Linked DNA regions of Homo sapiens. The protein of the gene in region 2 interacts with the protein of the main gene of each other region in a pairwise test. Each region holds a gene or a part of one and is shown on either strand. Other genes may lie near its edges.

What was found. Proteins that work in one complex are often made in the same cells at the same time.
Region 1: the proteins of SYT6 (region 2) and TSGA10 interact in binary tests that used the Homo sapiens proteins (3 or more experiments, as listed by UniProt).

What each region holds. Positions count from the first base shown.
Region 1 is NC_000002.12:99,071,443-99,074,942, reverse strand, and holds part of TSGA10 (testis-specific gene 10 protein), read left to right. Parts: intron 1-1,869; coding exon 1,870-1,925; intron 1,926-3,068; coding exon 3,069-3,237; intron 3,238-3,500. UniProt on the Homo sapiens protein: Plays a role in spermatogenesis. When overexpressed, prevents nuclear localization of HIF1A.
Region 2 is NC_000001.11:114,136,870-114,140,369, reverse strand, and holds part of SYT6 (synaptotagmin-6), read left to right. Parts: intron 1-406; coding exon 407-755; intron 756-2,316; coding exon 2,317-2,875; intron 2,876-3,500.

The sequences.
Region 1 (3,500 bases), on a different chromosome or scaffold from region 2:
TCTGTCACCCAGGTTGGAGTGCAGTGACACAATCTCAGCCCACTGCAACCCTCGCCACCCGAGTTCAAGTGATTCCCTGCCTCAGTCTCCTGAGTAGCTGGGATTATAGGCGCCCACCACTGCACCCGGCTAATTTTTGTATTTTCAGTAGAGATGGGGTTTCACCATGTTGGTCAGGCTGGTCTCAAACTCCTGACCTCGTGTTCCGCCTGCCTCACCCTCTCAAAGTGCTGGGATTACAGGCATAAGCCACCGCATTCGGCCTCAAGTAAAGACTTTCAAAAGCACTAGTTCAACTAGCTTTTCAGAATTTGTTTAGAAATGTATTAAATTATATTTCAAAAATGTGTAAACATTCCATTTTATGGAGTATTTTGTCTTTTAGTTTTTCCTTCGTTGGCTTGTCCTTCTTGAAGGGGTTTAACTTTTTTTTTAATGCATATTTTAACAACACACCAGTATCTATTACTGCCAGATGTGGAATCTGTACCATTCCATGAGAAAGCAGAATGGGAAACTGTAGCTAAAAATACCCTGGAGAAGAGCACATGAATAAAGGAAGATAGCACACACACACACACACACACACACGCAAATATGTGTAAAACTAACGCTAAAGAAATAGGAACGGCCGGGCGCAGTGGCTTACGCCTGTAATCCCAGCACTTTGGGAGGCCGAGGTGGGTGGATCACTTGAAGTCAGGAGTTTGAGACCAGCCTGGCCAACATAGTGAAACCCCGTCTCTACTAAGTATACAAAAAATTAGCTGGGCATGGTGGCGCATGCCTGTAGTCCCAGCTACTTGGGAGGCTGAGGCAGGAGAATCGCTTGAACCTGGGAGGCGGAGGTTGCAGTGAGCCGAGATCGCGCCCTCGCACTCCAGCCGGGGCATCAAGAGCAAAACTCCATCTCAAAAAAAAAAAAAAAAAAAAAAAAAAAAAGAAAAGAAACAGGAACAGAATTGGTTGGAAAATATAGGTTTGGGTTTTTAAAAATCTTTTTACTTAGTTACTTAAAATTTGAAAATTCAAATGGCAAGGTGAAATCTAGTTATTACTTAGTGAAATAACTTTCTTACTTTTTTAGGGCTAATGTTAGCTCTAAGTATCTGTTTATAGTTGGACTAGTTCAGGGTCAATGGAAGTTTTAAAAAGAGGTGTGGGAATGGTATTAAAGGCATTAAGATATTCAAACCCATTTCTGCCTTGACTGACTCCACTACTTCTACTCCCTCATCACGCCTTTGAAAAAGGAAAATATAGTTTATTTCTCTTACCTTTGCTCGAGGCCTAATGCTTACCTTCTTATTAGCTCTCACCTAAATATCAGTAGTATACTTCTATAAGTAATTGGATTGGAACAGCTTTTTGAAGATTTTGTTGCTGGCTAATATAAATAATACACTTAATCAAAATTATTCTTAAAAACTAAATTTAGGTATACATGATTGGCTTCTCTGGGTTTTATAACATAAAGAATGTGAGCAAGAGAACCAGTTCTAAATCCCAGTATAAAATGCCAATACTCCAATGCCAAACCATTGGTTTGCCTCCAAAAACAGGTGGTTATAGGGTTCTTGTATTGCTGGGTGACTGCATAAAATATCTTTTGACAAAGAATTTGATATACTGATCTCATAATTACACCTAAGTATAGCCTTTACTTTAATGAACATAATCTATTTTTACCCAGTGCAAATATTCACATTGATATACTAGGCTTTAAAGTGTGGAAAAGAATAGGACATACATGTTTTTAAAACCAAATGGAAACCTAAAGGGAAAGGGAAATTTTCTTTTTGTTCATTCAATTTTAACAGAAATAACAGCTTAAGATTTTTTTATTTAATACTTATATTATTTTTCAAGGAAAAGACCATTTCAGGCATGAAGAATATCATTGCTGAGATGGAACAGGCATCAAGGTAAATCAGTCGTGCAACAAATATATGAGCTCTTACTGGGGGGCCAAGTACCATGTTAGGTACAAAGATAGTAAGAAACAAGGGGCTTAATGATACGTGTAAGGTGCTAACTCTCTCATCAAAGGAGGCCTAAGTCTGTCTAAGGAACTAAAAGAGGGGATGGTGTTTGCCAAGTAAAATAAGGGGAAGGGAAGGGCATTTAAAGTAGAAAGAATAGCAAAGAACCACAGATCATGTTGACAAGCCTCTTGACCTACAAGTGGGTGAGTGTTGTTGAAACCTAGAGTGTAAGGGGAGAAGTGAAGGGAGGAGACTAAATAGGCAGGCAGAGGCTTGTGTAACAGACAAATGAGTATTGGTTATATCCTTTGGGCAATAAGAAATCATTAAAGAATTCTGAGGAGAATTTTGTGTTAGAAAGATACCTAAGCAGAAGAGGTGGTGATAAATTGGGGTTTAGGAGTTGTGGGACAGAAGGAGTGAAATGCTTTTGTATGAGGGAGAGACACCAGGAAAATGCCAAGTTTCTGGCCAGGGACAAATACTGAACATGAAGAAAGTATGAGGAGAAAAAATGATTTTACCTCTGAATTTGAAGAACCTTTGGGACCTTATTGTAGACATGTCTAGTAAGCAGTTAAATATAAGTCTGGAGTATAACAGAGGGTCTAAAACTGGAGATAATTATTTTGGAGTCATTGGATCTAGATGGGGTTGGGAACCATGGATATGAATAGAGTTTGTCTGAGAGAAGGGTTAGAGTGAGAATAATTGGGAGGCTAGGGCTTGAGCCCTGAAAAGCATTAATTTTTAAGTGGGCAGAGGAAGAGGAATCTGTAAAGGAGACTAAGCCATAACAGAAGTAGGATGAAAGCCTTCCTAATACTTGATGTAAGAAGTTTTGAAATATTTGGCAAATCATTGACTATTATGTATACTTTGTATCCTTTTCATAGCGAAATGATGGCAACATTGAGAAACTCTAATGCACTGTCTTTGCAGTATTTATTCCTATAAATTCAAACGTGTTTAAAATCTCTTCAAATGTTTTCATACTAACTGTCCATCTTCTGTCTTGTGAGAATTTGTTGCTCTGTTTCAGTAAAATGTCTCTTCTTATGTACTCTTTGATTTGTGGAATAGACAGTGTACTGAGGCCCTAATTGTGTGTGAACAAGACGTTTCCAGAATGCGTCGGCAATTGGATGAGACAAATGATGAGCTGGCCCAGATCGCCAGGGAAAGAGATATCTTGGCTCATGACAATGACAATCTCCAGGAACAGTTTGCTAAAGCTAAACAAGAAAACCAGGTACACTTGTTCCTAGAATCATTTTCTCCAAGAAAAAAAAATATGAATTTCTTGTGAGGAACAGCCCTCATTTTATTTTATAGAAGAGCTCAGACACTGGAACTAGCCTTTTCTTTTTTTTAAAAAATAACAAAATAGGCCACATAATTTTTAAATGGAATTCTCAGACACAAAGGGTTAAATATTAAAGAAAAGAGAGAACAGGGCTATATTTGTATTAAAGCTTAGTACTTCCTTGCTGAAGGATAAATATTTGAATAATC
Region 2 (3,500 bases):
GAAATTCAAACAGCATCTCAACATGAATCCTTCACAAATTTGCACATTTGCTTAGGCTGCTATTTAAATTATTTTCATTTCCCTGTGCACGTGCCAATAGCCAGTAGAGAGGACAGCCCAGGTGCTCCCCAAGCTGGCTGGGGGGATAGGGGTGGGGGCGGGAGAGAGGATGATGCTGGAAGAATCAGATTGAGGTGAACACAAGGCTGTACATACTCCACCAAGTGGACAATCAAGAGTCAACCCTGAAACCACCTCTCCCTCTGACCTGGCAGCTTTCTCATGACCATTCTTCTCTCTTCTTCCGTCTTTGTCCCTTCCGTGTGCCCCCTCCTCCAACACCCTCACCCGCTTCTCCCCGCCTCTGTCTGTCTGTCCCTCCCTGCCTGGCTCATGCCGAGGGCAGGCACCTCTGTCAGCCTCCTCGCAGTTGTAGTTATTGTGTGTGGCGTGGCCCTGGTGGCAGTTTTTCTCTTTCTCTTTTGGAAGCTGTGCTGGATGCCCTGGAGGAACAAGGAGGCCTCCAGTCCCTCTTCTGCTAATCCCCCCTTGGAAGCCCTCCAGAGCCCCAGCTTCAGAGGCAACATGGCGGACAAGCTGAAGGACCCCAGCACCCTGGGCTTCCTGGAGGCGGCCGTGAAGATCAGCCACACGTCCCCAGATATCCCAGCTGAGGTGCAGATGTCGGTCAAGGAGCACATCATGCGTCACACCCGGCTGCAGCGGCAAACTACAGAGCCAGCGTCATCCACCAGGTGAGGAGTGGACCACTCCCTTCCCTGACCCCCACACCTCCACACTCCCTTAATACATCTATGGGATTCCAGCCTGTGGGGATCACAGACCAGAAATAATAACACATATCCTTTGATTGACAAATATGTCAGATGATGTGAGCCATGATGGGTGATCAATGAGGAGGTGGGCACCAGGAAAGACTTCATGAAAGGGAAACCTTTGAGGCGGGTTGCTGTATATGTGGTTTGCACTTGGGGTGTGTGTGGGTGTGAGGGGAATGGAATAGTGGAATAGGGGAGTGTTGGATGTTTGGAAGGAAAGACTTCAGGCAGAAGGAAGAGAACAGTAAAGGCCTAGAGATGTAAGAGTTCATGGTGTGTTTAGGGATATGTCAGTAAAGCCTGATAGCTACAGTCTGCAGTACATGGCAGATAAGGCAAGGGAATCTTAATAGTTTGAGAATCAGGATTCCTTTAAAGCCTTTCAGAGTTCCCTGCATGACAACAACTGTAAATACATACAGCATCCTTTAACTGAAAATAGCAACAAGAAAAACATAACGACAAAAACCTACCCTAAATTCAGAAGCACTTTTAAAAGATGTGGTGCAAGCATGCGTAAGGCATTGTATTTACTCAAAACTTAGGGCTCTGATGGACTCCTAGGTCCCTGCAACGGCTCTCCAGGCCCTCAGGGGACCAACAAAAGAGAACGAGGCCTGGTCTTCAGACTGGAGGCCAGGAATGAACATGCTGGGAGGTCACACTGACAGTCTGTCATATGGCCTTGGGCAAGTTCCTCACCTTCCCTTAGACTCACTTTTTCCAACTGTAAAATAAGGCTGATGACTTTTATATGGCAGTTGTGAGGAGCCAATGGAAGAATCAATGTGATTGATAAGGAGAGCTAACACATATATTGCTTATGATTATGCTTGGCTCTATTCTAAGCACTTCATATGTAATCAATTCATTTCACAGCAATCCTATGCAGCTGTTACTTTTATTATCCTCGTTTTTATGGCACAGAGAGGTTAAATAACTTTCCCAAGATCTCAGCTAGAAAGTGACAGAGCCAAAATTAACCTATGCAGGCTAACTCCAAAGCCCATGCTTTTACCACTCTGCTGCCTGCCGTATAGCAAATGCTTAACAAATGGTGATGGTGATGATGGTGATGAAGTGGGTGCCACATTGAGGATAAGAAGGGATGGTCCTTCTCTTAAGGAATCTCATGATTTAATAAGGAAACCAGAGTCATGTCTACTAGGAAGTAAACCTAGAAAGCAGGTAACAGAAAAGCAGGAAAAAGTGATTATGATAACAATGGCTAAAGTTTATTGAGCTTACTATATATCAGGCACCATTCCAACTACTTTACATATATTAAGACATGTAATGCTCACCACAACCTTGCACACAAAGTGTATGCAGAGCAAAAGTGGGGTCAAGAAGAGGAAGGAAAAGGGGGCTCAACAAGGGATAAGATGAGCCAGGGCCTCCAGGCTCGTGTTTGCCTTCATCCCCCTTCCCCTGAGCCCTGACCACACTCCCTCTGCCCCCTCCTGCCCTCTACCAGGCACACGTCCTTCAAGCGCCACCTGCCAAGGCAGATGCATGTCTCCAGTGTAGACTATGGCAATGAGCTTCCACCAGCAGCAGAGCAGCCCACCAGCATTGGCCGCATCAAGCCTGAGCTCTACAAGCAGAAGTCGGTGGATGGGGAGGATGCCAAGTCTGAGGCCACCAAGAGCTGCGGGAAGATCAACTTCAGCCTACGCTACGATTACGAGACCGAGACCCTGATTGTGCGTATCCTGAAGGCTTTTGACCTCCCTGCCAAGGACTTTTGTGGAAGCTCTGACCCTTATGTCAAGATCTACCTCCTGCCTGACCGCAAATGCAAGCTGCAGACCCGGGTGCACCGCAAGACCCTGAACCCCACCTTTGATGAGAACTTCCACTTCCCTGTGCCCTATGAGGAGCTGGCTGACCGCAAGCTGCATCTCAGTGTCTTCGACTTTGACCGCTTCTCCCGCCATGACATGATTGGCGAGGTCATCCTGGACAACCTCTTTGAGGCCTCTGACCTGTCTCGGGAAACCTCCATCTGGAAGGATATCCAATATGCCACAAGTGTAAGTACAGCCCTGTTCCTTGGCTTCTTGAGGATTTGTGGTTCTGGGTTGGGTGGGACATGTCCCCAAACCCTCACTTCCTAGAGACAAATGGGCCTTTGCCATTTGGGATGTGAAGAGGGACTCTGGAAACTGCCCAGTGGCCCAGTCTACCCTTGCACTCTGCCCCAGGTTGGGATGGCAGAGAGCAGAGTCCCCATGTAGCTAGGAAGGGAAGGGAATTTTTATCTGTGGCTTCTGGTTGCATGTTCTGGGGTGGTTCTTTCTACTGAGAGTACTGATGTGCATTAGAAACTTGGCATAGGCAATTGAAACAGGCCATATCAATCAGACTGAACTAGGCTATGCTGCAGCAGCAAACAGTCCGAGGATTTTGTGGCTTTAGACAACCAAAGTTTATGCCTTGTTCATGTTTCATGTGCTTTGCAGCTGGACTGGGGACTCTGCTCCACCTTGTTACCTGGGGACCCAAGCCAACAGAGGCTGCATTTAGACACGGGCCCCCACAGTTAAACATCAGGAGGAAGAGGAAGTGGCAAATCACGCACTGTTTATTAAAACTTCCACGCAGAAGTGACACATGTCACTTCCACTCCCATTAGAACAAGACACGCGGTAACTCCTA